6 separate regions of the Homo sapiens genome follow, and regions 2, 3, 4, 5 and 6 are each linked to region 1. The links come from fine-mapping of genetic effects on gene expression. A gene starts in region 1. Each other region holds a variant in brackets. All regions are shown on one strand. Distances are between the middles of the regions. Region 1 holds the start of PLEKHA5 (pleckstrin homology domain containing A5). Region 2 overlaps PLEKHA5 (pleckstrin homology domain containing A5). Region 3 has its middle 47 kb from the start of PLEKHA5. Region 4 overlaps AEBP2 (AE binding protein 2). Region 5 overlaps PLEKHA5 (pleckstrin homology domain containing A5). Region 6 overlaps LOC107984527 (a long non-coding RNA gene).

Region 1 (5,222 bases):
CCACCAGAAAAGTAACCATAATATTAGAGATTATCTGACCTGAGCACACACTGTAATATATTAGGGTGGAGAGGAACTATGTTCTGGCACCCAAGAAAGCAAAGGGAAGCCTTCTCATCCCAGGTGGAACACTCATGAATGACTAGCAAAAAAAAAAGCTGGGTATAACAGGCAACGCCTGCCTCTTCTTGGGTATATTGTGTCTATTTAAGACCGTATTTTTCAGCTACACAAATGAATCCATCTAGGAAGTGTCACCAAAAAGAAGGCAGAACTTCCTAACTACTTAATTAATGGAAAAGAAATGACACCGAATACTTCCGTGTGTGTTTCTAAAAATTTGACTAAGAGACGTGAAGTTTCAAGTAGTAAAGTTGGGGATGATTCAGGTGAACAATGGTCATTATGTGCTACATATTATTATTAATGACAAGTTGTTTGGATTTCATCAAAATGCCTCTTGGAAGTAAAAACAACCGATGTGTGTACAAAACCAGAGTCCAAGCAAAGTAAAACCAAACCAGAAAAAAAAAAAAGTGAAATCACATAAAAGAATAAAATTTTTCTGTGGCGTGAATGTTACCAAATCTGTGGGGTTAACTAGGACACTTATTTATATCACTCATAATTCCATAGGATAATTAGTCTAAATAATTTAAATGTCATATCGTCTTTCATGAAATAAATCTATCATTATCCATAAAAGCAAAGAGGCCATCAAAGTTGGAATATGCGTGTAAAACACCAGAAAGGTATATTGAAGCAAAAGCCTGCACCGGGGAATTGAGAAACATGATAGTGTATTAGTCAGAAATGCCTTAAAAATGTAAGCTCATCATGCTTGCTACACCAGCCTTTCCTTTCTTCCTCCACCTTTTTGCAAATTTGGAGACATTAGTCACTTCAGTGAACTCCAGCATTTCACAGAGAGGCAGGTTTGTTCAATATCCTGGCAACTTTAACAGATTCACGGAATGTCAGAGTCCGAGAGAATGTACCCCAGAGGCCAGCTCTGAGGACTGCTGAAACTGGCCTCGCCTTCGACCCAAACTGCTCTCAAGCCTTTCCAATCACCAGGACTAGAGGCAGGCCAGTAAGAGAACACATGTTACATTTCAAAGACAAACAAGTCACGAATGTAAACAAAGAATGATAAAAGAAACCCAGACCAGTACAGAAACTACGAGGAGCCTTTTCCAGCTCCACTCACACTTAGCATTCAAACAAGCTCCCAAAGCCACCCGAGAGAGCCGCTTCCCCACGGACTCCCTCCAAACAGGGCCCGGGTGCCCCCATACGGGACACCCCCTCGCACGCCCACCGCCTCCTGGCAGTCTGTGCAACCTCCGTGCGGCTGGCGGGGACTTTAGATCCGGATCGCCAGCAACTGAGGCTGCGAACGCCTCCTCCGGCTCCGGCTGCTCCTCCCGTGGCAGGAGGGAACGCGCCAAGCGTTTCCCGAGCCGTTCCCTGTCACAGAGAGGATCGCAGCACCCCCGAACTCCTCTCCTCCTCCTCCTCCTCCTTCATCAGCCACCTACCCACAAGTCCCACCTAGGAGGAGGAAGCTGCACGGCAGGAGGCAGCGCTCCTGGGAGGAGGGGGAGGATGTGGTTACGTTATCCCGGCGGGCGATCGGGGTCCGGGGCTGCAGGGAGGGGAGTGGGTAAGGACTGCCTGAAGATTGCTGGGGGGCAAGACGGCAGCTGGGGGTCACCGGGGAGTGAGTAGCGGCCGCGGAGGAAAAACTCAGGACTCCAGGTTTCAGGGAGGGGAGCGTCGCCACTCTAGGGTCGCGAGGGTCGTCTAGGCTGGGATGGGGGGAGAAGGCGCAGGAAGAGGGCGCCGTCTCCAAGTGCTGATGAAAGGCTGAGGAGAAAGAGGCGCCCCGAGACTGGAGAGAACTCCCGGCGGCGGAGTCCCCGTGGCCCCTCTACCTGCGGCCGCTCCCGCCCGGCCTCCGCCCCGCCTCGCCGCCTCCCGGGGCCCGCGGCGCGGGGCAGGTTGCGGGGAGCCGGGCGGCCCGGGCTCTGCCGCCTCCTCCAGGCGGAGCCCAACTCCGTTTGGGCCCGGCGTTACCTGTGCTCTGCCGCCGGTGTCCGGTGACCACCGCCTCGCCGGTGACGGGGTGCAGCCAGGTGGTGCTCTTGGCCTCCTCGCTGCAGGGGTGAGAGAAGGGGCAGACACGGAGCGTGAGAGGGGACGCGGGGGCGAGCCGAGGGGCTGCAGGAGCACAGACCCGGGCTCTCCCCCGTGTCGCCAGCCGCCCGCCTCCTGCCCTCCCGCCCCCGCGGGCCCCCGTGCCGTCCCCGGCTCTTTACTTGATGAAGAAGACTCGGCCGCCCCTGGTGATCCCGTAAGTCCAGGACCGGGGCAGGGAGATCCACTCCAGGTTCAGATCCGCCGCCATGTCTGATCCCTAGCCGCCGCCGCCGCCTTCTCCTGCTGCCGCCGCGGCTGCCGAGGGAGGAGGGAACGAGCGAGCGAAGGGAGCGCGGAGCGAGCGCGCCTCCCCGGCCCGGCGCGCCCCCGCGCGCGCCCTACCCCCTCGGGCGGTGCCCGCCCCGCCGCCCCGGCAGGGTCCGGCCCCCGTCGCCGCCCCTCCGCATCCCGGCGGCCGCCGGCCGGCCGCCCCGCCGCGCGCTCGGGGGATGGGCAAGCGGCGCCGCGCCCCAGACCCCTCCCTCGGGCCCCTGCGGCGCGCCCGCCCCCTCCGCCGCGCGAAGGTTCCGGGATCGATTAAAAAAAAAAAAAAAAAAAAAAAAAAACGCGTCCTGCCCCCAGGGCTTTGCCCGAAGGCTTCCCATCCCAGGGCGCGATCAAAGGGAGCCTAATAATGCCCAAGCCCCTGATTTCTCTCTTTCAAACAACAAAAACACAGCGTCTGAGCTTTGTTTTATAAGAGCTGTTGGAGAGCCAACAGATTTTTCCAATATATTTATCGTTTTAAAATGGAAAGCTGTTTTTATTAAAGCACACGAAAGGCCTTTCCTGTTTGTTTGTTGTGTGCCAGATATCAAAGGTTGGACGTGATACGTGGCCCCATGAAATATGAGTGGATTTAGACTTGACAAAACAAGTTTTTTCTCTTCCTAGGCCCCTTAGGTCATATCTTATAAAATAAAAACTCGTCTTTTTCTGGTACTTGTTTTTAAAGATTCACTTAACATCAGTGTGGATTTTTACTTGCCCTGTCTCCAATAGATTACAATAATAGCTTATTTTATGGAGTCCTTGTGACGGTGTACATTTTTAAATCTTCACAACAACTATATATATATGTGTGTATATATATATATGTGTGTGTGTGTGTGTATATATACACACACACACACAATCTATAAAAAATCCCCATTTTACAGATAGGAAAAATGAAGTTTAAAAACACAGTAGTTTGCCCAGTCATAGTAATAACTGCCAAAGCCTGGATTCAAACTGGCTGTAGGATTTCAAAAGTATATTTGTATAACCTCCTTGCTGTACAAGCCCACTTTGTTTTACTGCGATTCACTTTATTGCTGTTTGCAGATCTTTCACATCTTACAAATTGAAGGTTTGTGGCAACTCTGCATTAAGCAAGTCCTAGCACCGTTTTTCAACAGCATTTGCTCACTACATGTCTCTGTGGCACATTTTGGTAATTCTTGCAATCTTTCAAACTTTTTCATTATTGTACCTGTTATAGTGATCTGTAATCAGTGATCTTTGATGTTACTGTTGAAATTGTTTTGAGGGCACCATGAACTGAGCCCATGTAAGACAGGGACTTAATAAATGTGTGTGTTCTGACTGCTCCACCAACCAGCTGTTCCTCTGTCTCTCTGCTTCATCTTGGGCCTCCATATTCCCTGAAATGAAACACTAATAATTGTCTAATAATAATGGCCTAATATTGAAATTAGGCCAACCAGTAACCCTACAATGCCCTTTAAGTGACCAAGTGAAAGGAAGAGTTGCATGTCCCTTACTTTAAATGAAAAGCTAGAAACGATTAAGCTCAGATGTATCAACAGCCAAGAGAGGCCAAAAGCTCGGCCTTGTGTCAAATAATTAGACAAGTTGGGAATGCAAAGGAAATGTTCTTGAAGGAAATTGAAAATGCTACTCTGGTGAAAACATGAATTATAAGAAAACAAAACAGCCTCATTGCAGATAGGGAGAAAATTTTAGTGGTCTGGGGAGAAGATCAACCTAGCTACAACATTCCCTTTAGCCAAAGCCTAATCCAGAGCAAGGCTCTAACTCTCTTCAATCTTATGAAGGTTGAGAGAGCTGAGGAAGCTGCAGAAGAAAAGGTTGAAGCTATCAGGGATTTAAGGAAAAACACCATCTCCGTAACATAATAGTGCAAGATGAAGCAGCAAATGATGTAGAAGCTGCAGCAAGTTATCCAGAAAATCTAGTCAAGATCATTGAAGGTGGATACACTAAACATATTTTCAATGTAGACAAAACAGCCTACTATTGAAAGAAGATGCCATCTAGGACTTTCACTGCTAGAGAGGAAAAGTCAATGCCTGGCTTCAAAGCTTCAAAGGGCAGGCTGACTTTTTTGTTAGGAGATAATGCAGCTGGTGATTTTAGGTTGAAGCCAATTCTCATTGACCATTCCAAAAATTCTAAGACCCTTAAAAATTATGCTAAATATACTCTTCCTGTGCTCTATAAATGGAACAACAAAGCCTAGATGACAGCACATCTGTCATGGCTGACTGAACATTTTAAGTCTGCTGTTGAGACCTACTGCTCAAAAAAAAAAAAAAAAAAAGAAAAGAAAAAGTGATTCCTTTCAAAATATTTCTGTTCATTGACAGTGTACCTGTTTACCCAAGAGTTCTCCTGGAGACATACAAGAGATTAGTGTTGTTTTCATGTTGGCTAACCCAACATGCATTCCACAGTTCATGGATCAAGGAGTCATTGTGACTTTCAAGTCTTATTATGTAGAAAGTACATTTCATAAGGCTATAGCTGCCAGAGATAGGGGGTCCTTGGATGGATCTGGAAAAAGTAAATTGAAAAAATTCATAATTCTAGATGCCATCAAGGACATTTGTGACTTAAGGAAGGAAGCCAAAAGATCAACATTATCAAGAGTTTGGAAGAAGTTGATTCCAACCCTCATGGATGAGTTTGAGGGGTTCAAGACTTCAGTGGAGGCAGTAACTAGAAATATGGAAATAGCAAGAGAACTAGAATTAGAGATAGAGCCTGAAGATGGG
Region 2 (5,222 bases), 23 kb before region 1:
GGGGCATATGAAATCCTTCAGGGCAAAGCTTGTCATTTCTCTGTACTCACAAGACTCACAGACTGTAATTAGAAGGCACTCAGTGTGGTCTGATGCCGTTATAAAAGATAACATTATATTTTAAATCACAAAAAGGCCAATATAAATATGTTACTAGTAGATTCCAGTTTTTAAATCTAAAAGACACACCAAACATTCTGCTTCCATCAATGAATACAAACAAGTAAACACAAAAAGTGAAAGGCATTTAATTAGCATATTTAACCATTCTCACTAATAAGAGATGAGTCACCTTTATTCCAATTACTTCTTCCAAAATTATGAAGGCCTTTTATTGGGCATTTTCCCGAATAATTTCTCACTCAATTTGTAGTACATACTGAAATCTATTCCAGTTTCTTGAAAGTCAAAGATTGAGAGGAAAATTGATTATCCATTGCTGAGTATCTTGGTTGTACACAATTTTAAAACTATATACCTTTTAAATAACCAACAAGAAAACAAGGAAGAGAAGAAAGAACAAAATAAGGTATAAATAAACCTAAATATACCAACAATCATAAGTTGACTATAAGTTAAAAAAAAGTTTATAAAACTGGAAAAAGATTCATTATATACTATTTTAAAAAGATACACCCAAATATACGGATAAACAGATATTTTAAAAGGGTGAAAAAAAATTAGAGTAGGTAATGCTAAATAAAAGAAAGTTTATATATCAAAATCAGACAAAACAGATAAAGGCACAAGTACTACCGGAGGTGGAGGTCCCCTCATGATAAAAATGTTGGCTTCATTCTGATGGCATATTCTACACTTAACAGAACATAACAATTCTATACTTAAATGCATCTGATAATATAAACTCAAAATAAAAGGACAGAGTACACAGAGAAAACAAGAAGTCACTGCAACATTTGAAAACTATAATATCCCTTTCTCCATGACTGATTCTAACCTCATACAAACTCTTCCAGAGTACAAAAAAGTGGAACACCTTCCAACTCATTTTCTGAGGCTAGACCAACCTTGCTATCAAAGCCAGACAATGACAGTACAAGAGAAGAAAATTACAGGGCAATTTCACTTTGTTATCATAAATATCAAAGTCTTAAATGAAGTATCAACAAACCCAACAGAACAATGTACAGATGATTTTAGGGGGGTGAAACTATTCTGTATGATACTGTGATGGTGGATACATGTCATTTACATTTGTCAAAACTCAATGAACACACAACACCAAGAGTGAATCCTAAGGTAAACTATGAACTTTGGGTGATAATGATGTGACAATGTAGGTACAATTGTAACAACTGTATCACTGTGGTGCAAGATGTCCACAGTGGGGGAGGGGGTAAAGGTTTGTGTGTGTGTACGCGTAACAGAGAACTTTATACATTTTCTACTAAATTTTGCCATGAACCTAAAAGTGCTCTAAAAAATACAAACTTTATTAACTTGGAAAAAAGAGTACTTCATGACCAAGTTGGGTTGATCCCAACAATGTAAGATTTACCATTAATGGTTTAGCATTAACAAGAGTATTAATGCAATTCATGGAATTCACTGAATAAGCAAACTAAAAGAAAAAAAATCTTAATGAATGCAGAACAAATAGTTGATAAAATTCAATACTTAAACTCATAATAAAAGTTCTTACTAAAGTAGAAATAGAGAATTTCCTTCACCTGGAAATGATACCTTCCAAAAATCTTCATCAGATATCATTCTTAGTGGTAAAAATTAGAATCCTTCATTTTTACATCAGAGCTGTAGTTGCTTCTATCACTGTACTGGCAATACTAGCCAGCAATATAAAGAAATGTAAGGACTGGAATGGAAAAAGATTAAAGTACTGGAAAGGAATTAAAAACAACAAAAAAAAAAACAAAAAACCTGTGTTAATTTACAGAAGACTGACATAATTTTATTAAAATTAAGAACTCTGTTCGTCAAAAGATCTCTTGGAATGTGAAGGTAAGCTACAATGTAGGAGAGTAAATTTGCCACACATATTATGGATAAAAGATTATAATAAAGAAATTCCCAAAATCAAATGCATGTACTTTACAACTTCAATTACACTCCTATTTACAGATCCTAGAGAAGCTCTTTGACATAAAAAAAATGTTCTTATTTTAAGCTGAGTATCATGTGCAGTGCTTATTCATCTTATTTTCCCTTATGTCTGACAAATGTTATATTCATTTGGCATTTAATTAAATTGTCATAATTAAAGAAATAAAACATACTCAAAGATTTTAATTATTACCATCATATATAAGTAGTATATAAAAAATATCATTGGACCCCAAGTTCGTACTACTGCTACCTGCATAAAACAAACTGACCTGCATTGCATGGGCAATTTATATTATACAGATTATTTTAACCTGCCTTGCTCTTTTCAAAGAAACAAATCTGACGAAAGACT[A/G]AAGACAAGAAAGTAATTGCTATTAATTATTCTTCATGTACAGTCTCTATCTATGAGCCTAGAGTCAAAAGCTTTTCCTAAATTATTTCCAGGTGTTTCTGAGAATTTGTAAAATCTTCCACTGTTGTCCTGCTTACTTTGTTGCCTATTAGGCAACTTTGTGGTTTAAAGATTATGAAGTTTTGGTCTGGTTCATCACACAGTTTGAACTTTCAAAATGACTAACAGCAAAAAAGATTAAATATTTACATTAAAATATCTACTGCTAATACCAATGTAAAAAAAATGTGGCCGGGCGCGGTGGCTCACGCCTGTAATCCCAGCACTTTGGGAGGCCAAGGAGGGTGGATCACGACGTCAGGAGATCGAGACCATCCTGGCTAACATGCTGAAACCCTGTCTCTACTAAAAGTACAAAAAATTAGCCGGGCGTGGTGGCAGGCGCCTGTAGTCCCAGCTACTCGGGAGGCTGAGGCAGGAGAATGGCATGAACTCTGGAGGTGGAGCTTGCAGTGAGCCGAGATCGTGTCACTACACTCCAGCCTGGGTGACAGTGCAAGACCCTGTCTCAAAAAAAAAAAAAAAAAAAAGTATGACCAAAAAATAGAAAATGCTAACCTGAAAATCTTGATCCTTGAATTTTTTTTTTAAGTCCAGGTTCCAGGCTTAGATCTTTGAATTTTACACTTGACAACAGTATTACTTAAATTAAATCACTGTCCTTTAGTATTTGCATATATCATTAATGTTTTCCATCTCTAAAGAGTTTACATTTGGAAAATGTCATTTCTAATAAAAAAATACTTAAAATATTCTGAAAAACCATAGTGAAAATATGGAAGCTGCTAATGACTATGTATCTGCTTAGTATGTAAGCTATTAAGAGTTCACAATCTACCTACCCAAATACCCTTTAAGGAGCACAGGCAGAACCCACAAATTCCTGGGCTGACCACCACTCTTGGCCAAATGAGTCACGGCCTCTGTAAGTCCCAGGGTCACCTTTCTCTAGGAGTCTACTGAAACTAAATTCAGCAAACCTCTCAATGCCCAAATTAACTTTATCTCCAATTCCTCTCTCAATCCATCTACTGACCTGGCATTAACCCTACAAGGCTTTGTTTTTTCCATCCCTGACCTAGTCTACAGTCCACCTTCTATCTTACAAATTTAACTACCTATGGAAATGGTGCTCCATAATTAGCAAACTCCTCTATACCCTCAACCTCTTTTCAAAGCATTACCTCAGTACCTTGGCTGTTAAGGACTTTCTCCCATCAGCTGTCCTACTGCATTCTCTCAAAGAACAGATATTTATTCCCCATTCCCCCAAGGTCCTTCAACTACCTGAGCCATCCATTCTCTTAATCCCAGAACCTTGTCATACCCATAACCTGGCACATCTAAAATCATGACTTCAATGATCACACTGCAACACCAAATCTCCAACCTTGCAGTATACATGTTTAACTACTTCCCTGTGGGAGTTCTCTGGTCTTGGAAGAATCTCTATCCCAATCTATCAGATCACTTTTTGCTCTACTTCCCTCCTTCCCAGCCTGAAGTCTAACAGTTCAACATTTCAACAAATCTATCATACCCTAACTCTCCTGCTCATCTGTCTTTCACTGGATTAATCTAGAAAAACCCTTTGTGGCTTCAAGCTTTCATTCTCCTTGAGCTCCTACTGACCACGGCCCTCCCTCAAGATTCCATAAATACCCAACAAGTGTCTGCAATGCACCAGTGACATAGCATTTAAACACACTGTATTTTAACAAACTGCTGACTTGTTTATTACAAAATATTTATTACAAATGTTCAACAGATATTTATTGAGCATTTCCTAAGAACAGAAAGGCACTATTCTTAACTGTGAGAATTTAGCAGCAAAGAGGGTCAGAGGAGGTCCCCACTCTTGTGAGGCTCATATCACAAGGCAGAAAAAGAAAACACGTAAGTGAATAAGAATTTTAACCAGTGATAAGTGCCACAGGGAAAACAAAACAGGGTAACATGACAGCAAGTGCTTGGTCAGTGGGTTTTGGGTGTGGGCAGAACAGGGGAGGTCATCTACTTGAAAGACTTCTCAGAAGCACACTGAGACCTAAGATACCTTCCTCCATCCCCCAAAACAGAATCAGTCAGATCTATTTTGGACCTTAAACTGACACAGCCCCAGTGAAAGTACCAAACCAACTAAACAGGGCATCAAAAGAAAAAAACATAATAACTCTATTCTACAGGAGTTAGGAATTAACAGTTTTAATAAAGAGGGTCATCCCACACATGTCCACATAGATTTCTATATAATCTAAGGAGTACATATATGATCAGCAGTGTGTTCAGGATCAAGTGTAATCCCATATTTCAGACTGAAGAACCTAAACTTTAGCTGGGTTCAGTAATTTTTTCAGCATGTACCTTACATGGATTACAAAAATGCCTCCATCTTCCACCTCTCCTTGTATCTACAACCTTGTACAATGTTAGTCTGCAACTCCTCCTATCCAAAGATGGAGTCCATTTCTCCACTTTTTGAATCTGAACTGACCTTGTGACTGCCTTTAGCCAACAGAAAGCAGTAAAAGTGACACTGTCCCAGTTCTGAATCTAGGCCTCAAGAGACCCTTAGGTGCTTCTGCTCACTCGGGTGGATGCCTGTCTTCATCAATCACAGCAAGCCTGGGCCTAGCAGATGAAGCCGGAACCTATTAGAGGAAGAGTCATTCCCATCATCCTGGATAAGGCCATGCTAGACCTGCCAAGATCAGCAAAGCCTCTT
Region 3 (5,222 bases), 47 kb after region 1:
CTTTTTCCCTTGACCACCACTTTTGGTGGTGATATTCCAGGTGGTGGCTACTTGTCAGCCTGGGTCCCAGAGTGAGGAGACCAGATCACCACAGCAGACTCTTAACTGGCATACAGTAGAAGCAAGGGGGAAATCTTGATTGTTTTAAGTGCTGAGTTTTGGGGCTGTTTGTTATCATAGCATAACCAAACTTATACTGACAGCTATGCCAAATGTATTTTTAAAACTGGAAAATAAAGTCTTCACTGCTTAGAAGAAAGAGAAGTAGGTCAGAACCAGAGTCTAGTTAGTGGCTAGCCATGTCAGAGCAGAGAAGGCAAGGACCCAGAGGCCGGGCAGATACACCAAGTTGGCACAGATGGTCAGGGAGGTGTGAGCTACAGAATGAGTCACCAGGAAAGTCATGGAACAGCCTCAGTAATTGAGACTTAATGGTAAGGAGGCCCGATGTGACCTAGTCTTTGAAGACAGGCCCCAAACCTGGGGATGTGGTCATAAAGAACAATGCTTATTTTCTAGAACAATGCTTGCTCATTGTCCAAGCAGATTAGATGATAAACCCACTGGCACAGAGCTTATTAAATAATCTCTGACTAGGGATATCTTTAATTTTGGATTAGGGGTGGGGCTGAATCTACAGATGAAAAATAAATGGCTCAAAATAAGAAGAGTAGTGGAAGGGAGCCAAGTGAGTCATTACAAATGGAAGACTTTGTGAATGGTTCTAGGGAAAAGAAGAATAGATTTTGAAATAAATGTTAGAACACCGAGTTTCTATTGGTTTTACACCTGTTAACTCTAAGACAGAAATGATTTAGCTTTGACATGGTTGTGCTTCTTTCTTAAACTGTAGGGTACTTGGTCATATGTTCTGGCTAGAGGTCTCTTCATGAACTCTAGTTGCACTCCTACACGCTTGATGGAATTGGGCTGACTTGACAAAACAAGGCCATTTATGGAGCAGTTGTGAAGGCATATGTATTCGATTTCTAGGGCTGCCATAATGAAGTACTACAAATGAGGTGGCTTAGACAAAAGAATTTTATTGTCTCCCAGTTCTGGAACCTCACAGCCAAGATCAAGTTGTCAATAGGGTGTTGAGGACTAGCTGAGGACCGTGAGAAAGAATCTATTTCATGCCTTTCCTCTATCTTCTGTTTTTCTTCTGGTAATTTTTAGTGTTCTTTATCTTGTAGAAGCATCACCCTGATCTCTGCCTTCTTCTTCACGTGGCCTTCTCACTGTGTTTATGTGACCCCAAGTTTCCGCTTTTTATAAGAACACTCATCATATTGGATTAGGGGCATATTCTATTCCAGTATGATCTCATATTAATTAATTACACATTCAAATACCCTATTACTAAATAAGGTTACATGCTAGAGTACTGAGAGTTAGGACTTCAGTGGATGAATTTTAGGGGAACACAATATAACCAATAGCATCATGCATTAAAGGAGAAGTTGTTTCTCTCACCATACCTATCTGTTCCCATTTTTTTTTCTTTTACCTGGCCTCTTACAGAAGTATTTACAGACTTTCCTGGGCTGCAAGCTTTTTTGAGGTCCGATACTACACTTTTAAAATCTGTCCAGCTCTTAGCCGGGTGCGGTGGCTCATGCCTGTAATCCCAGCACTTTGGGAGGCCAAGGTGGGTGGATCACCTGAGGTCGGGAGTGCGAGACCAGCCTGACCAACATGGAGAAATCCCATCTATACTAAAAATACAAAACTAGCTAGGCATGGTGGCGCACACCTGTAATCCCAGCTTCCCAGCTACTGGGGAGGCTGAGGCAGGAGAATCGCTTGAACCTGGGAGGCAGAGGTTGCGGTGAGCCAAGATTGCGCCATTGCACTCCAGCCTGGCAACAAGAGTGAAATTCCATCTCAAAAAAAAAAAAAAAAAAAAAAGAAAAAGAAAAAAAGAAAAGGAAAACTCTGTCCATCTCCTGACAGGAATTATTAAAAAGTAAGGTCATCATATCTCACCTGAACTGGTGACTGCAATAGCTTTCTGACTTCTCTCTCTGCTTCCTCCCTTTTTGGTTTACCCATTGTGATTCATCCTGAACAAAAGTTTTCCCTCTTTAAAAAATGTCCTTCACCAAGTGGTCCACCTGGAAAGCTGCCATTCACCCTTCTACTCTCAGATCAAGCACTACTATCTCCAATGCCTTCGATGACATTCCCAGGCAAAATCATGTAACTGATTCCTCTTTGCTTCCATGTAATACTGTGCATACCCTGTGGCAACCAGTAGGCACTCAATAAATGTTGGAATGAGTATCTGAATTAATGAAAGGAATAATTTATAAGGCAAATCCTATAAAGTAATTTTAGGGAATATTTTCCTCTTTCTGTTTGTACTGCTAAATTAAATGGATCATGCTTTAGAATAGTCTTCTCATGTTTGTATCACTTGTAACTCTGAAGAAGTACCCATACATTTTTAAAAATGTAATTCATAAACAACACTGCATCAATATAAAATGTACAACTTTTTATCAGGCTAAGAAAAAAAAAA[AC/C]TATAGGGTCCTTGAATCTTCTTTAAAATAATGATAGGTCTTCTACTACCATTATCAATATATCTACCCAGAAATGCTATTAGCATCACTTGACAAATCAGAAAACTTCATCTCCACAGAAAGGCCCTGGAATGTAACCACTCCTTAACAATCTAGGCCATGATGATCAGGCGTCAACTCTTTGGGTTAGGCACATGAAAGGAGGTGGATGACAATCAAATTGACAGAGTGGACTAAGACAGTGAGTAGAGCAATTCAAGGACGTGCTGAAAGCAATTTGAAAAACTCCCTATAGCAGAGTCATTAGGGACAAGTAGGAAACTATCGCTGCCAACAGAGTCAAATTGCAGATCTTGAGGTTTAGATGGTGAAAAAGTGGATTATCTCACCTATGAGAAATACTGACAGCAAAGTCTAGGGGCAGCCAAGTCTTCCACCCTCTAGCTGCTACCTACTCTTATGCCACTGCTTTTCATACACGCCTCTCCAAAACATCATCTCCATTTGCGGTTCACATTTTCAATTCCCTTTTACTTTCATTCATTCCACTTCAGTCTGGCTTCTATCACAACAATGAAAATGAAAGTGTTTTTCTAGGTCGCTGCTGGCCTCTTACCTGCCAGAACTCACGATGCTTTTCTGTCTTTAACTCAGTCTTCTGTTGTGGTCCACATTGATGATGAAGACTTGAAACTCTCTGCCAGGCCTGGTGGCTCACGCCTGTGACCCCAGCACTTTGGGAGGCCAAGGCAGGCAAATCACCTAAGGTCAGGAGTTCAAGACCACCCTGGCCAAATGGCGAAACTCTGTCTCTACTAAAAATATAAAAATTGGCCGGGCATGGTGGTGGGCGCCTGTAGTCTCAGGTACTCAGGAGGCTGAGGCAGGAGAATCACTTGAACTCAGGAGGCACAGGTTGCAGTGAGCTGAGATTGTGCCACAGCACACTCCAGCCTGGGTGACAGAGTGAGACTCTGTCTCAAAAAAAAAAAAAAAAAAAAAAAACCCAACAAAAACTCTTTCTTTCTCAGTGTCCTCATAGTCCTTTACCATTCTCCATTTCCATCATGGGTTTCTGTCTTTCTACTGATGCTGTAAATGTTGGTGGCCCCACCAAATCCACTGGTCTTCTCACTCTCGTTATCCCATCCCTTCCTGGGTAGTTATATCAGCACCGATTTCTGCTATTATACCTGCTCATGACTTCTCCAAATTTCAGAGTTTATATCCTACTGATAGTCTTTACCTGAAGGTTTCACAGGCACCTGAAACTCAACCTGTCTAAAATAAACTCCATACCCTCATCTATGATTTAAATGGTTGGTGACATTAACAGTCTTCCAGTCACCCATGCCAAGGGCTTGGGAATCACCTTGGACTACCTCTTTCTCAGTCTCTCAATCTCATCACTCACCAGTGCTACTGATCGTAATTTCTAAACTTTTCTTGAATTTGTCCCCTCCTCTTGTCTATCATCACTGACTTAATTCAGGCCTTCATCCTCTGTGATCTGGAATTCTGAAAAGAATTCCAACCCCTCCTCTTGTTTCTAGTTTTATCTTTTTAAATTGGTCCTTCACAGAGAGGCCAGTTATCTAACTAAAACACAAGTCCAAACATGTTGTGTCCTGCTTGATGCCCACAAGGGGCTTGAATTCCTACATGGGAGTCCTTGAGGGTTGAGCAGCCAGAGCATCCAAAGAAGACTCAAGGGCTCAAGAAATGACTACTAGCAATCTCACTATTCTAGCAACCTGTGCAGTTATACTGGTAGATACCTGCTATGCACAGTATAATGTTTCTCACCTGCACCTTTACTTATGCTCTGCTCTAACTGCAACCTGGCTAACTTCCAGGCATCCTATAAAATAAACTCAGGGGTCTCTTCCTCCATAAAATCCTCCTGTCACTTCCCCCAAATACCTTGTCTCTATATCTTCTAAATACTGCATGAAAGTATCTGTCTGTCTTTGCATTTTCCACATTAGTTCCACCCCTTGTGGACAGGGACTATGGCACAAAGCCAAGTTGTACAGAATCAAGGCTCTGATATAGGAAAGCCTTGATACATGCATGGTGAAGGTTATTGTGAAGGCGGTCGTTGGTTGAGTGCTTGGAAGGATCTGGAACCTAGATAAGTAATTCTTTATTTTCACTGCCTCATGTTCAACTGCAATTTTTTCATATGTATATGAAAGCAAAAGAAAGGAAGAAAGTCACAAAGGGCTGTCTGAGGCACATGATTGTGAAGAGTTAAAGGGAAAATCCATTCTTCTGCTTTGTGAGAGCTCTCAAGCTAAAGTAAATGAGCCTTTAGAAGCCAAACATGCAGCTAACAAAGGTGAGCTCATGGAGAAGCCTATGAACAGTTGTTGGTCCTGTGGGTCCACAGTCAAGTGTCTGGGGCTATTGTTGGCAAGCAAGACCAAACTAGAGGAAAAATATGTCTATGGGCATGCAGTGATGGTGCTGGGGGAGAAGTAGGAGGAGAAGTGAACAAATAAGGGTTTCATTTAGGAAGATCAAGAGATGACAGCCTTCTTAGGTATCTAAGCAAATAGCCCCCAAAGAGAATTTAAAACATTAGATTCTAAGGGCTAGAGAGTTTTTTTGGGCAAAATAATTAAATCACTGAAAAATAAGAAAGAAAGAAAGAAAACTCTTGAGGATTGCCTGTCTTGCAATCACGTGTACATC
Region 4 (5,222 bases), 350 kb before region 1:
TATTATTATATCAAATATAACAGACTTTAAAGCAACAATAGTAAAAAAAAAAAAAAAAAAAAAAAAAAAAAAACCCACAAAGAGGTGACATTAAATAATAATAAAAGAATTAGTCCAACAGGAAAATAACAATCCTAAATATATATGCACCCAACTGGAGCTCCCAAATTTATAAAATAATTACTAAACCTAAGAAATAGGATAGACAGCAACACAATAAACACAGTAAAATAATAATAATCCTAGCAACATAATTATGTAATAATAATTGTATCCTGACTTCAGATAACCTGATGACTGTGTGCCTAGGTGATGATCTTTTTGTGATGAATTTCTCAGCTGTTCTTTGAGCTTCTTGTATTTGGATATCTACATCTCTAGCAAGGCCAGGGAAGTTTTCCTCAGTTATTCCCCTCAAGTAAGTTTTCCAAATAATAGTGGGGGACTTCAATACTCCACTGACAGCATTAGACAGGTCATCAAGACCGAAAGTCAACAAAGAAATAATGGATTTAAACTACACCCTGTAACAAATTAACTTAACAAGTATTTACAGAACATTCTACCAAAAACTGCAGAATATACTTTTTTTTGAGGCCCGTCACCCTGGTTAAAGTGCAGTGGCACAATCTTGGCTCATGGCAATCTCTGCCTCCCAGGCTCAGGCAATCCTCCCACTTCAGCCTCCCGCATAGCTAGGACTACAAGTGTGCACCACCATGTTCAACTAATTCTTTTATTTTTTGTTGAGACAAGGTTTTGCCATGTTGCCCAGGCTGGTCTCAAACTCCTGAGCTAAAGCAATCCACCTGCTTCGGCCTCCCAAAGTGCGAGACCTACCATGCCTGGCCAGGATATACATTATTTTCATCAGGACATGGATAGACCAAGATAGACCATATGATAGGTCACAAAACAAGTCTCTATAAATTTTTTAAAAAATCTAAATTATATCAAGTATCCTATCAGACCACAGTGGAATGAAACTGGAAATTAACTCCAAAAGGAACCCTCAAAACTACACAAACACATGGAAATTAAATAATCTGCTCCTGAATGATCCTTGAGTCAACAATGAAATCAAGGTGGAAATTAAAAAATTATTTGAACAATAATAGTGTCACAACTTATCAAAACCAGTGGGCAACAGCAAAAGCGGTGCTAAGAGGAAAAGTTCATAGCATTAAATGCCTACATCAAATGCCAGGCAAGGTGGTTGACGTCTATAATTCCAGCACTTTAGGAGGCCTAGGCAGGTGGATCACCTGAGGTCAGGAGTTTGAGACCAGCCTGGGCAACATGGTGAAACCCTGTAAAAATACAAAACTTAGCTGGGTGTGGTGGCCCACACCTGTAATCTCAGCTTACTTGGGAGGCTGAGACAGGAGACTCACTTGAACCCAGGAAGCAGAGGTTGCAGTGAGCTGAGATCATGCCACTGCACTCCAGCCTGGGCGACAGAGTGAGACTCTGTCTCAAAAAAAAAGAAAAGTCTGAAAGGTCACAAATAGGCAATCTAAGGTCATACCTCAAGGAACTAGAGAAACAAGAAAGAACAAACAAAACCCAAACCCAGTAGAAGAAAAGAAATAACAAAGACCAGAGTGGTGCTAAATGAAACCAAAAGAACAACAACAATACAAAAGGTAAATGAACAAGCTGGTTCTTTGAAAAGACAAAAGTGACAGACCATTAGTGAAACTAACCAAGAAAAGAAGAACGATATCTAAATAAGCCCAATTAGAAACAAAACAAAAGATATTACAACCAATACCACAGAAATACAAAAGATCATTCAAGGCTACTATGAACACCTTTACATGCACGAAGTAGAAAATGTAGAGGAGAGGATAAACTCTGGGAAATACACGACCCTTCTGGGACCAGTTGGATTCACAGCTGAACTCTATCAGACATTCAAAGAAAAACTGGTGCCAATCTTAATGTAACTATTCCAAAAGACAGAGAAAGAGGGAATCCTCCCTAAGTCATTCTATGAAGCCAGTATCACCCTAATACCAAAATCAGGAAAGGACATAACAAAAAAATAAATCTACAGACCAATATCCCTGATAACAGATGCAAACATCCTCAACAAAATACTAGCTAACCGAATCCAACAGCCTATCAAAAAGATAATCCACCATGATCAAGTGGGTTTCATACCATGGATGCAGAGATGGTTTAACATACACAAGTCAGTAAATGTGATGTATCACATAAAAAGAACTGAAAATCATGTGATCTCAATAGATGCAGAAAAAGCATATAACAAAAAAATCCAGCATCCCTTTATGATTAAAACCCTCAACAAAACTGGCACAGAAGTAACATACCTTAACGTA[A/G]TAAACAAACCCACAGCCCATATTCTACTGAACGGGGAAAAGTTGAAAGCATTCCCCGTGACAACTGGAAGAAGACAAGGATGGTCCACCCTCACCACTTCCATTCAACATAAGTACTAGAAGTCCTAGCCAGAGCAATCAGAGAAAAGAAATAAAGGACATCCGAATAGGTAAGAGGAAATAAAACTGTCGCTGTTTGCTGACGATATGATCATATACCTAGGAAACCCTAAAGACTCATCCAAAAAGCTTGTAATCTGATAAATTCAGTAAACTTTCAGGATACAAAAATCAACGTAAATTAATAACACTGCTCTACACCAACAATGACGAAGTTGAGAAACAACTAAAGAACTTAACCCCTATTACAAAAGCTACAAAAAAATAAAATACTTAGGAATATACCTAACCAAGGAGGTGAAAGACCTCTACAAGGAAAACTACAAAACACTGCTGAAAGAAATCATCGACAACACCAACAAATGAAAACACATCCCATGCTCATGGATGGGTAGAATTAATATTGTGAATATGACAATACTGCCAAAAGCAATCTACAGATTCAACGCAATTCCCATCAAAGTACCATCATCAATCTTCACAGAACTAGAAACACACTATCCTAAAATTCATATGGAACCGAAAGAGAGCCCAGATAGCCAAAGCAAGACTAAGCAAAAAGAGCAAATCTGGAGGTATCACATTATCTGACTTTTTATACTGCAAGGCTATGCTTACCAAAACAGCATGGTCCTGGAATAAAACAGACACATAGACCAATGTAATAGAGATCCCAGAAATAAAGCCAAATATTGGTGACTCACGCCTGTAATCCCAGCATTTTGGGAGGCTAAGGCGGGCGGATCACTTGAGGTCAGGAGTTCGAGACCAGCCTGACCAACAGGGTGAAGCTCTGTCTCTACTAAAAATTTAAAAATTAGCCAGACATAGTGGCAGCCACCTGTAATCCCAGCTACTCGGGAGTCTGAGGCGGGAGAATTGCTTGAACTCGGGAGGCAGAGGTTGCAGTAAGTCAAGATCACACCACTGCAGTCCAGCCTGGGTGACAGAGCGAGACTCAGTCTCAAAAAAATAAAAACTAAAAACCATAAAGTGGGGAAAGGACACCCTTTGCAACAAATGCTGCTGGGATAACTGCCAAGCCACATGTAGAAGAATGAAACTGGATCCTCATTTCTCACCTTATACAAAAATCAACTCAAGATGGAGCAAAGACTTAAATCTAAGACCTTAAACCATAAAAATTCTGGAAGATAACATTGGAAAAACTCTTCCAGACATTGGCTTAGGCAAAGAGTTTATGACCAAGAACCCTAAAGCAAATGCAATAAGAACAACAACAAACAGATGAAACCTAATTAAACTAAAAAGCTTCTGCACATAAAAAGAAATAATCAGCAGATTATCAGCTTCTGCACATAAAAGAAATAATCAGCAGAATAAACAGACAACCCACAGAATGGGAGAAAATATTTGCAAACTATGCATCCAACAAAGGACTAATGTTCAAAATTGACAAGGCACTCAAAGAAATCAACAAGAAAAAAATAATAATAATCCCATCGAAAAGTGGGCAAATTACATGAATAAGCATTTCTCAAAAGAAGATATACAACACAATACCACCTTATTCCTACAATAATGGCCATAATTTAAAAGGCAAAAAACAACAGATGTTGGCATGGATGTGGTGAAAAGGGAACACTTTTACACTGCTGGTGAGAATATAATACAACCACTATAGAAAACCGTACAGAGATTTCTTAAAGAACTAAAAGTAGAACTACCATTTGATCCTGCAATCCCACTACTGGGATTGTCACTATATGAATGACACTGGGAAAAAGTCATTATATGAATGACTACTGGGAAAAGTCATTATATGAAAAAGACACTTGCACACACAAGTGTGCCCTTCAATCAATAAGTGGATAAAGAAAATGCAGTATATATATATATACACACACATACACACATACATACATACATACCATGGAATACTACTCAAGCCATAAGAAGGAACAAAATATGGCTTTCACAGAAACCTGGATGGAGTTGGAGACCATTATTCTAAGTGAAGTAATTCAGGAAAGGAAAATCAAATATCGTTTTGTTCTCACTTATAATTAGGAGCTAAGCTATGAGCAGGCATAAGAATGATATAATAGACTTTGGGGACTAGGAGGGAAGGGTGGGGGTGGTTAGGTATAAAAGACTACACAGTGGGTACAGTGTACAGTGTACACAGCTCAGGTGACAGGTGCACCAAAATCTCAGAAATCACCACTAAGGAATTTATCCAATGTAACCAAAAACCACCTGTTCCCCAAAAACTATTCAAATTAGGGCCAGGTGTGGTTAATCCCAGCACTTTGGGAGGCCAAGGTGGGCAGATCACGAGGTCAAGAGTCCAAGACCAGCCTGGCCAACATGGTGAAACCCCATCTCTACTAAGAGTATAAAAATTCGCCAGGCGTGATGGCGCATGCCGGTAATCCCAGCTACTCGGGAGGCTGAGGCAGGAGAATCGCTGGAACCCAAGAGGCGGAGGTTGCAGTGAGCCAAGATCATGCCACTGTACCCCAGCCCGGGCAACAGAGCAAGACTCCATCTTGAGGGGGGAAAAAAAAACTATTCAAATTAAAACAAAAAAGCAAGGTACCCATATACAATATAGTATTTCAAGAATGGAAGAAACTTGGTATATAGAAAAACAAGTATATAGAAAAACAAGTAATCTGTGTATTTAAAGCTGCTCTAAAATTAAGTTTGTTTCTTTTTAAAGCAAGGCACAGACAGTATTTAATTTACTAGACTTTGTGTAAGAAAGAAAGGAGAATGAGACTACATATTTAT
Region 5 (5,222 bases), 49 kb before region 1:
TTTAATAATCTTATCTTAGTGCTAAATTTAAGTTCCTTTACAATCTAAGCAGAATTCAATTCTAATTCATACCAGTACTGGTCTGTGGCTATCCAATGTGCTATAGTCTTCCATTTCGTTATACCTAGTTCAGGTCATCTCAAGTAAATAGTGAAATATTACTATAGAGTTCTTTTTAATCTGATATTTTCCATTATATTAGAGAATCAAAATTGATTTTTTTTTTTTTTTACAATTTCAACTATCTGCCTATCCATGTGAAACATATAAAACTTTAGAATGGTGGTTCTGAATGCTGACTGTGCACTGTGGAGTTCTTTAAAAACAGATCCCCAGGCTCCACACCAGAGGTGTCTGACTTGGGTCTCGGGTGAGCTTAGGCTTGAAGCTGTGGCTGATGTTTTTTAGGAGCCGTAGGTGCATATAAAGCACAGTCTCAGGAATCGGCTTTGGAATACAGTTTAAAAAAAAAAAAACACTATATTTTTCAAAGATATATATTTTTTAAATATTTATATTACTTCTATAACAAACAATTCAGTTTTAAAAACTCATATGACCAACATATTTTAAATCACCATTGTATTGCATGGGTCTTTAGAAATATAATTGCAACAATCACTGTCAATTTTTTTGGCCAAATAATTAGTCATCATATTGGTGAATTTCTAAAATATGCTTGCAGATGTAAAATTATTTGTGCATCAAAAATAATAACAAGGTGCCTTTTAAATACCATTAATCCACAGTATCTGACAAAATTGTTCCCTATCTGCTTATTGCCAATTTAGAACTTCCTGGATTCAACCACAAGGCAAATCCCCCTACATTTTTATTATTTTTCTGTGTGAAGTACCCCAGATTTCATATGCCTCAGCCCTGAGGATGACTCCCCTCATGGGTTAAATAGAGGGGTTTTCTGCTGGGCCTGCAAAACAGTCTTGAGAATGAAAATACCCTTGATTACTGTCAAATGACCTAGTCTTTCAGAGTAAAAATTTAAATCCCAACAGTGATTTAAAGTCTATATTCAGCTGTTAATCCCTTTATAGACTCAAAGAGCAGACACGCACAATAAACCTCTAAGCTGACAGTTTGAGATTTGCTTACTACCGCTGGCATTTCCGTGCTCTAAAAAATAATCACCAGCATACTGCACCTTGATACAAGGTACAAAAACTAAGTATCATTAATCATGTGTGTGTTTTGAGAGCAGCCTGAAAGACTTTTGTTTACAAGTCTTTTCATATAAATTTATCCTGTTAGCCAGGCGTGGTGGTGCATGGCACATGCCTGTAGTCCTAGATACTCAGGAAGCTGAGACAGGAGGATATCTTGAGTCTAGGAGTTGAAGTCCGGCCTGGGAAATATAGCGAGACCCTTTCTCTTTAAAAAATATTTTTCTAATTTTTTTTCAGTGTCTCTAATTTTTAGCTAAAAAAGGTTATTATTGTGTGTCTTTACAAATGAGAGGCTAACTTTCAGCTACTTAATTAACTCACCTGTAATTACTGCAATAAACCCACCTCTCCCCCATATACCAGGGAAAAATTTACGCTCTAAACATTTATATTTAACTAACACTTCACTGTTTTAGTTTTTTCTTTTTTGAGACGGAGTTTATCTCCTGTTGCCCAGGCTGGAGTCCAACGGTGCAGTCTTGGCTCACCGCAGCCTCTGCCTCCCGGGTTCAAGCGATTCTCCTGCCTCAGCCTCCCGAGTAGCTGAGATTACAGGTATGTGCCACCACGCCAGGCTAATTTTGTTATTTGTTAGTAAAGACGGGCTTTCGCTCCATGTTGGTAAGGCTGGTCTCAAACTCCTGACCTCAGGTGATCTGCCTGCCTCAGCCTCCCAAAGTGCTGGGATTACAGGTGTGAGCCACCACGCCCGGCCAACACTTCATTCTTTTGTTCAATTGTTTTTTCAGGTTCCCCTCCAGTCCTTAGCCTTATGCATAAATTCATAAAACTGAGATCACAGTGTGACACAACTGTTTCTTCTGTTTCAATATAAATAATACATACTGTTAAACAGAGGCCCTAACAACAACCTATGGGATCAAAAATGGAATAATAAAAAGAGCATTAAACAATTGTTATATAAAGCAGCCAATTTCACATTTTAAAAAACTGCAACTGAAAAACTTATTTCCCAGTGCAAAGGAATTAAATGTCTCGCATAAAAACATAATGTAATCATGTATGACTCAGGAATTTCTGAAAGAGGTAATGTGCATCTGCAATGAAAATAAAACAAATGCAGAATCTCTCCTCCTTTACCCTAAGCACTTGGTTTCTAATCCCAAGTAGAATAAACCAACTAGGACATACATGATTTCTAGGTTTCAACAAATTAGACTGATATATCCAACAGCACTCCACCAGCCACTATAAATATTTCTACTTCTACTACTTTGTGTTTTGAGAGTTGTTTGTTTTTTATTTTTGTTGTTGTTTTAAAGAAATCAATCCACAGACATCACTGCATATTAGCCCACAACTCCTCTGTAGAGATTAAGGAAACTAACGCCCAGTAAGGCAGACTAAGGACACAATAAAAGCAATGAAGTCATGAGCCGAATCTC[A/G]GTTTTGCCATTTTCTGCCCAGGACAGATCTCTATCAACCAGAAAAATCCTGGATCTCTCACTAGAAAGAGGTAAGCAGGTTCTCAAAAGCTACGGAGTATTATCATTCTACATTTTCCCAACACTGTCATATTTTAACTTATTTCATTTTATCAATGTTATTACTTCAATCATGAAAACTAAGGATAAAATTAACTACCTACTTGGAAAACTGCACGCTCCACTTCGTGTAGCTGCAATGCTGCACCTGTCTCTCTAACTTGTGACTTCTTTTATTTTCTACAAAATTATGCTGGCATAATCCCTGAATATGCTACTGTCTTTAATGATGGGATCAGTTTGATGTTTCAGCGATGTCTCCTGCATTTACCTAGGGAATAATGAATTCTGAACAAAATATAATGTACAAGAGAAAAATCAAACCAATTTCTGTGTTGTACTCATTTATAAATATGTGGCTTGCTACCAGTGAATGCATCCTCAGTTTTTTTCACGTCACAGCACACAAAGGAAATGACAATACTTGGGCAGCACACTGGAATAATAGACCAAGGAGATTTCTGAAACGTGGGTGGGGGTGAGTGCTCAATGGTTCCAGAAACCTAATCACAGCACACCAGGAGCCGTGGAAGTTGTGTGCAGGAGTATGAAGATGATGACACTAACATCACAGCCTTAACTGCCATAAGGAACAGTATGCTCAATTTCAAAGCTAGAGTTTACATTTCCACAGTGAACTCACAGAGCTATCCAATTAGTCACACAGAAGCTGATCATCAGCACTGGCTACATCACAGAAAAGTAATCATGGCAGAAAATATTCCTACCACTAGAAAGCCAAATCAAGTATTTTTGAGTAGGGAAATCACCTCTTACTGATCCGTAGAATTAAAAATGCACCTATAAATTATAACTTATTGAAGTAAATAAATACATAGCACAGGCCTGATTATCCTCAACTATAAACTGGAAATGGGGCATAAAGGAAACCACTACTTGGGCATGCCATAGTTCAAACAGGCTCCAGGTCAACTCTTGGTGTGCTTTAAAATTATTATGATCATTTGAGCAACATTACCAAAAGAAGAGCACAAAACTTCTTCCCGAAGGACAACACGGCACTGTGGGTGTATTAGATGTGTTGCAGTGGGAACTGATCCAAAGGCTTTGACCCTTTCAAAATGAAACTCGTCTGCATAACAACTGCTTAGCCTCCCTCATCCTTAGTTTCCCTATCTATCAAATGAAATATCATCTTCCTTATATGTTCTGTTATGAGGATTACAGATAATACATGAAATCTGGTTTCTACCACGTGTCTGGTAGTCATATGCACTCAAAAAGAATAATTGTAATCACTAGTACTATTTTGTACTGTATTTTTAACACATCATTAATTATCACATCTCTATGTTCAATATTTTTAAAAGCTACATAAATAACAATGTATCGTATTCTTGGAAACTGATAAGAGACATTTTAGGTGTTCTTACCACAAAAACAAAAGATAAATATGTGGGCCCTGCGTGGTGGCTCACACCTGTAATTCCAGTACTTTGGGAGGCCAAGATGGGTAGATCACGAGGTCAGGAGATCAAGACCATCCTGGCCAACATGGTGAAACCCTGTCTCCACTAAAAATACAAAAATTAGCTGGGTGTGGTGGTGCGTGCCTGTAATCCCAGCTACTCAGGAGGCCGAGGCGGGAGAGAGACTCGCTTGAACCAGGGAGTCAGAGGTTCCAGTGAGCCAAGATCGTGCCACTCCACTCCAGCCTGGCGACAGAGTGAGACTCTGTCTCAAAAGAAAAAAAGATAAATATGTGAGGTAATGCATATGCTAATGAGATTGATCTGGCCATTCCACAGTGTATACATATTTCAAAACATTATGTAGCATATGATATATATATTATTTGTCAATTTAAGTAAATACAGAAAGTTAAAAAAAATGCCTTATGTCTCAAAATAAGAAGGTGATTTCCTCTTCAGTTTTCTTTCCTATACCTAAGCTTCTATCAAGGAAAACACTTCAGTTTGGTACAAGACTTAATACCTTTACAACACTTGCTAATCTCTGTTAATGAAGAGAAAGGCAGGCATGGTGGCTCACGCCTATAGTCCCAGCTACTTAGGAAGCTGAAGCTGGAGGACTGCTTGAGTCCAAAAGTTCCGGGCTGCAGCATGCTATGCTGATAGCGTGTCCGTACTAAGTTCAGCATCAATATGCTGAACTCCTGGGAGCGGGAGACCACCAGATTGCTTAAGGAGTGGTGAACTGGCCCAGACTGGAAACAGAGCAGGTCAAAACTCCTGTGCTGATCTGATCACTAGAGGGATTGTGCCCGCGAACAGCACTACACTCCAGCCTCGGCATATAATAAGGCTCCATCTTAAAAAAAAAAAAAATTACTTATCTACTTTATTTATTTTAAATAATAGAGACAGAGGGAGGGAGGAAGACAGAGGGAGGGAGGAAGGTGGGGGGGGGACAGAGAGAGAGAGAGAGAGTGTCTGGAGAACTCCCTCCAAAGCTATACAACATTGTATCTTGTTATCTCATGGTTTAATAAAATAAGTCAATTGTTAGACATTTGTGTTATATTCACTTCTCACTATTTTGAAGGTTATTTAAT
Region 6 (5,222 bases), 63 kb after region 1:
AAGTCACATGGCTAAATCCATCAGTAGGGAAGTGTGTTCCTTCTATGGAAAGGGGAAGAATGAACATTTCCTTAGCAACAATCTAATTTACTGTAAGATGCTTTATATATTGCTATTATTCCTAAAAATTCTTTAATTTCTTAACATTTCAAATTATATAAGTTTGTATTTAGTTGCAAGTGACAGAAAACCCACAGGAGCTTAAACAATATAAACTTTTATTTCATACATATAAATGAAGTCCACAGGAAAGCAAGCTGAAATGGCATGGCATCTTTATAATTTTCAAGAATGCAGCGGCTTCTCTTCAGCTCTATTCCTATTCCCAGGCCGCCTTCTGATCCAAGAAGGCTGCTCAAGTTCCAGCCATCAAGTTCATATTCCAGACAGCAAGGTGAAGAACAAGATGAAGGAAGTCACATCTCTTCTCTTCCCAGAAGTTGCACACAATTCTTTTGCTTGTCTTATTGGCCAGAAATTATTCACATAATTACACTAGCAAGGAAAGTTAGAAACTTAGACTGTATTCTTGGAATTCTCCAGGTATCTATATTTGCTGTCAAAAATAATGGATTTTATAATGTTAATATACTATTAGAGAAGAACAGCTGTTGGTGTAAACAATTGATAGTCTTTGCCACAAATTCCAAAGAAACTACATTCTTGTCACTACCTAGCCTTTCAATGAGATATTTTATTCCTTCTTCTAAGTTCTTACAATAAAAATATGATTGTTAACAAAGACACCATAGATATTATCTCTTAAATTAAAGTTCTGAGTTATTTTTAGTTACAGCTGGCAAGCTGCCAAAAGGAAAAAGGGAGAGGGACTGAAGTTTCTAATATGGATGTCAATTCTCAGTGGAATTATCCAGCTCTACTACCTTCCAAGTTGATCCTGAGAACGGATTCCAGGGACAGCCATTACTTTATCTTTACTACTATAATATGTTAATTTCAGTATATGAGTTCTTGAAAGACTTCAGAGAAGAGAACATTTCCTGTTACGAATAAATGGTTACAAGTTGAATTAACCCACAGACATTGATGGTTGTCATGATCATTAACCTGTAATCAAGGTTATCCAAGATCTGTTCCCAATTTACCTTTCTAGGTCTGTCTCCCACTACTCTTTTTCACGTATCTTTATAAAATTTATAACATGCTGAAAAAATGTCAAGTATTATAGATGACTTTCTTAAACAAACTAGATTAATTGTGCCACCCAAATATATCCTGTATCTTACTTTTTTGCCTATGCTTGAGTCATCTCAGTAGAGTGACCCACGTCATACCTACTATAAGTTTATCCATTAGTTTAAGACTGAAACCAAAATCTTTCTTAAGAAAGTCTCTCTAGAATCCCATAATCAGAAGTGATTTCTCTCAAAAGTCCAATACAACTGTATATTATATTCCCTCCTTCCTTTATTCATTCATAATTAATATTTATTGAAACCTATTTTGTGTCACTGTGCTAGGTTTCATTTATAGTCTAATGGAAGGCATTAATCAAATAACATATTCCTTATGTATAGACCATGACCTATCTCACATTATACTGCTACTGTTCATCTTGCTTACTTCCCCAAGCACTGAAAACAAATGGAAAAGCTGTGTTTTATCGTGTGCCTACCCTTCTGACACCTAGTAATGTGCCTTGCATTGTTAGTTAAATGTTCAGCAGCAATATTCGATGAATATTTCATTTATTGCCTTACTCTTCACCCCGGGGGAAGCAATTCAGAGGACATATGTTACCATTAACTGCTGTAGAAAAATTCATTTGAAATTGAAACACGCATTTAAAAATATATACATGTGTCTTCATAACTGGAGTGTTGAGGATGGAGAAGAACCTATAAGATGAAAATCCAGCGTGTTTGCCTTATTAGAAATGCAAATGTCTACTAAAATATGATTATGAGAATATGAGGTGTCCAGTGTCCAGACGTGCAAAAATCACACAGATAAAAGCAAATCTCTCTCTAATCTTTCTTTGCTTTGTGTAATTAAAAGACAGAAAGCAAACTACGCTTTCTAAATAAATGATATTCAGTCAGTTTTAGAAATGTTTGCATCCTGCTACAATCACCGCTATAATAGGTTTTCTAGGCTCTGCAGCCTTTTCCTTGTTTCCTGCTTATTCAGGCTTCAGATCTGTGGAGTGGATCATAATTAGGAATCTACTGGTTCTTTCCCCAACTCTGATTCAATTAGCCATATGTTACAGGCAGCAAACACAGTGGCTGTCAAACTTTAGCAATTACCAAGCGGGG[G/T]GGGGAGGGGAGAAAGGTTTGTGGGGTCAAAACTATGAACTTATAAAAAGCTCTTGAAGTAAAGGCAAATCTTAATAGTGGAGCATTAATCAGAATTTTGTCTGGCCATTCATTAATCATCTCACACGGACCAGCTCTGGAAAGAGCAGCCTTTCATACACGTGGGACAGAAGTGTTGAGCTCTCAGAGCAAAGGTATCAGAAAAGGCAATGAGTAAATATGCAATTCTGTTTACATTCTTCATTCCAACAGTGAAGAAAAATCAATAGGCTTACAGAATATGGCAATTGTCCTTTGAAATGAAGGCTTTCTGAAAGGTAGTTTTTCTAGCTCATAAGGGCTGATTCCAAATAAATGATTTACTCTTTGTGGAGTGCTACATGCTTAATGAGGGCTGTTCTGGGTAAGACTGGAAGTGGAAAATCCTTGGAGGGTCACTGTTAAATTCATTTTATCGAAAAGGCAGAACATTCAAATTTAAACATTTGACATTCAAAGCTGTGTTAGTTCAGAACTTCTCTGCTACATGCTGATTTGTTAGAGAAAGGGGGTTGGAAGTCCTGGGGTAGATAACATTTAAAAAAATAGTTGAAAGAAAATGAGCATTGAAGCATGTCATTCTTGAGGAAAAACTCACATAATTAGGTAGGCTTTGTGAAGAAATCTACTGCTTTAAAAAGAAAAAACCTATTAATTTTTTGGCTAACCTACCCATTCATGCTCTTCTCCATAGAAGGAGGAACTGAGTTACAATACAGCCACACTCCATTTAAAATAACATTTATTCAATAGCAGGTCTGCCTCGTAGGCAGGCTTACCTCCTCATAGAAAAGGCCTATTATAAATCCCAGTAATTTTCCCATGAGTTCTACAAAGAGTGTTTCTTTGTGGTGGGTTTGAGTACTTTATCCACTATAATTTAAATGTCTCAAATGATGTCACTTCAAACTGTTTCCCTCAGGAGGTTGCTCTAGTCTGAAAAAATCTTCATTAAGATATTTCTCTAGTATTTAACCTGGAATTTATTTATCTGTCATCCGAAATAGGTCGTTTCCCCACCAGCTTTAACCACTGAACTTTGTTCAAGAAGCGAGTGTGCTCTAGCATAAGAAAGGTTGTTATCTTTTCTTCATAAAATAAGTGACTTTTAGCTCAACTGTATTGAGTGCATTAAAATTCCCATTTGATTTATTTTGCTCTAGGTATGTATCCATGTCTGTGGACACTAGTTGAGATTTTGGTCCAGGAAAAGCTGAGGTTTGGTTGGGGGAGGGTGAAGGTGAGTGGAGAGGATTTTAAAGTGTAAACTTTTACTCTCTCATATCAAATAGAAATTTTAAAAAAATATCGAGAGGGTAAACATTCACCTAGTGGAAAAGAAACTGAAGAAATCAATGAAGCCACGGAATATAGGTGTGACCTTTAGACTTTTTTCTTTTTGAGGTTAACAAAGTGGAAAAGCATCTTGCTAAGAAGTCAGGGTACAAATTTCTGACCCCTTTAAGAACATCTACTGTAACACTTTAGCTTTAAGTACTTCTACTTATTTATTTATTTAATGACTGCATCTTACCCTGTCACCCAGACTGGAGTGCAGTGGCACTATCAAAGCTTACTGCAGCAAACTCCTGGGCTCAAGTGATCCTCCTGCCTCAGCCTCTCCAGTAGCTCAGACTACAGGCCTGTAGTGGCCTAATAATTTATCATCACTCCTGGCTAATTAAAAAAAAACCCCTTTTTTTTTTCTTTTTGTAGAGACAGGGCCTCTCTAAGTTGCCCAGGATGGTCTTGAACTCCTGGGCTAAATGCTTCTTCCTCCTCAGCCTCCCAAGTAGCTAAGACTTCTGCATTGATTTTAATAGCTTAATTGGAATGACAAGGGAAGTGAGGGTTGCCAGAGCCAACACGTTAAATGCCTGTCTTGGGTGGCAGGCAGCTCCATGGTGAAGAGAGAACTCACTGGGCTCCATTGCCCCTTCCTGTGATGGGCTACCACACAGGATGAGGATCTTTGCTGCTAAGTCTCTCATCTGTTTCAAGTGTGTGTGCATATTGACAGTTCTCCTAAGGAAAGCAGAGCACTCCTATGGAGGTCCTAGAGGGTACATACAGCAGCTGATGATAACGTTTTTTTTTTCTACTAGGAGAGTTTTAATTAAAACTACATGTGGTTTGAGATGTTTGCTGTTCTTTCTCTTCTGAAAATCCTTACAATTCATTTTGCATAAAAAGAAAAATTCTAAAGTCTTTCATTTAAATAGTGAGATGATAGCTTCAGTAAGAATTGCTGTGTTGGGCTTTCATATATGGTTACTGAAAGCACAATGCAAAGGCCAGGACTGAATTTAACAGGCCATTTGCCGCAAGTAGCAGTATCACTGGATACCACCAACAGGTTCATGTTGAAGGTTTTTAAAAAAGCTTTTAAATTTTGCAATTAAAACATATACAGGCCAAGTGCAGTGGCTCATGCCTATAATCCCAGCACTTTTTGGGAGGCCGAGGTGGGTGGATCATTTGAGGTCAGGAGTTTGAGACCAGCCTGGCCAACACGGTGAAACCCCGCCTCTACTAAAAATACAAAAATTAGCCGGGCGTGGTGGCAGGTGCCTGTAATCCTAGCTACTTGGAAGGCTGAGGCAGGAGAATCACTTGAACCCGGGAGGCAGAGGTTGCAGTGAGCTGAGATCATGCCACTGCACTCCAGCATGGGCGACAGAGTGAGACTCCGTCTGAAAAAAAAAAAAAAACAAAACCAAAAAACCAAAAACGTATGGCCTAATAATTTATCATAAGGCATGTAACCACCACCCAGATCAAGAAATAAAATCTTCATTGCAGCGCTATTCACAATAGGAAAGACATGGACTCAACCTAAATGCCCATCAACGACAGATTGGATAAAGAAAAATGTGGTACATATACACCATGGAATACTATGCA

Evidence for each region.
Region 2: its variant is fine-mapped to the expression of PLEKHA5 in whole blood (TOPMed, PIP above 0.99).
Region 3: its variant is fine-mapped to the expression of PLEKHA5 in whole blood (TOPMed, PIP above 0.99).
Region 4: its variant is fine-mapped to the expression of PLEKHA5 in whole blood (TOPMed, PIP 0.97).
Region 5: its variant is fine-mapped to the expression of PLEKHA5 in whole blood (INTERVAL, PIP above 0.99).
Region 6: its variant is fine-mapped to the expression of PLEKHA5 in blood mononuclear cells (TOPMed, PIP above 0.99).

Annotation. Positions count from the first base shown.
Region 1 is chr12:19,126,988-19,132,209 of GRCh38, reverse strand. PLEKHA5 (pleckstrin homology domain containing A5) reads right to left here and starts at 2,477. Exons shown (of 32, transcript NM_001256470.2): 1 at 2,322-2,477; 2 at 2,080-2,159. The coding sequence starts at 2,410.
Region 2 is chr12:19,149,670-19,154,891 of GRCh38, reverse strand. All of the region lies in intron 3 of PLEKHA5 (pleckstrin homology domain containing A5), which reads right to left. Among named protein-coding and RNA genes, the nearest start is that of PLEKHA5, 23 kb to the right of the region's middle. The variant A/G (reference allele first, on the strand shown) is at 2,438.
Region 3 is chr12:19,080,460-19,085,681 of GRCh38, reverse strand. No RefSeq gene overlaps it. Among named protein-coding and RNA genes, the nearest start is that of PLEKHA5, 47 kb to the left of the region's middle. The variant AC/C (reference allele first, on the strand shown) is at 2,525.
Region 4 is chr12:19,474,569-19,479,790 of GRCh38, reverse strand. All of the region lies in intron 3 of AEBP2 (AE binding protein 2), which reads right to left. Among named protein-coding and RNA genes, the nearest start is that of AEBP2, 38 kb to the right of the region's middle. The variant A/G (reference allele first, on the strand shown) is at 2,346.
Region 5 is chr12:19,176,049-19,181,270 of GRCh38, reverse strand. The region is part of intron 3 of PLEKHA5 (pleckstrin homology domain containing A5); the gene reads right to left. It also overlaps the pseudogene RN7SL459P. Among named protein-coding and RNA genes, the nearest start is that of PLEKHA5, 49 kb to the right of the region's middle. The variant A/G (reference allele first, on the strand shown) is at 2,588.
Region 6 is chr12:19,063,918-19,069,139 of GRCh38, reverse strand. It overlaps LOC107984527 (a long non-coding RNA gene), which reads right to left. Exons shown (of 2, transcript XR_001749033.1): 2 at 202-556. Among named protein-coding and RNA genes, the nearest start is that of PLEKHA5, 63 kb to the left of the region's middle. The variant G/T (reference allele first, on the strand shown) is at 2,280.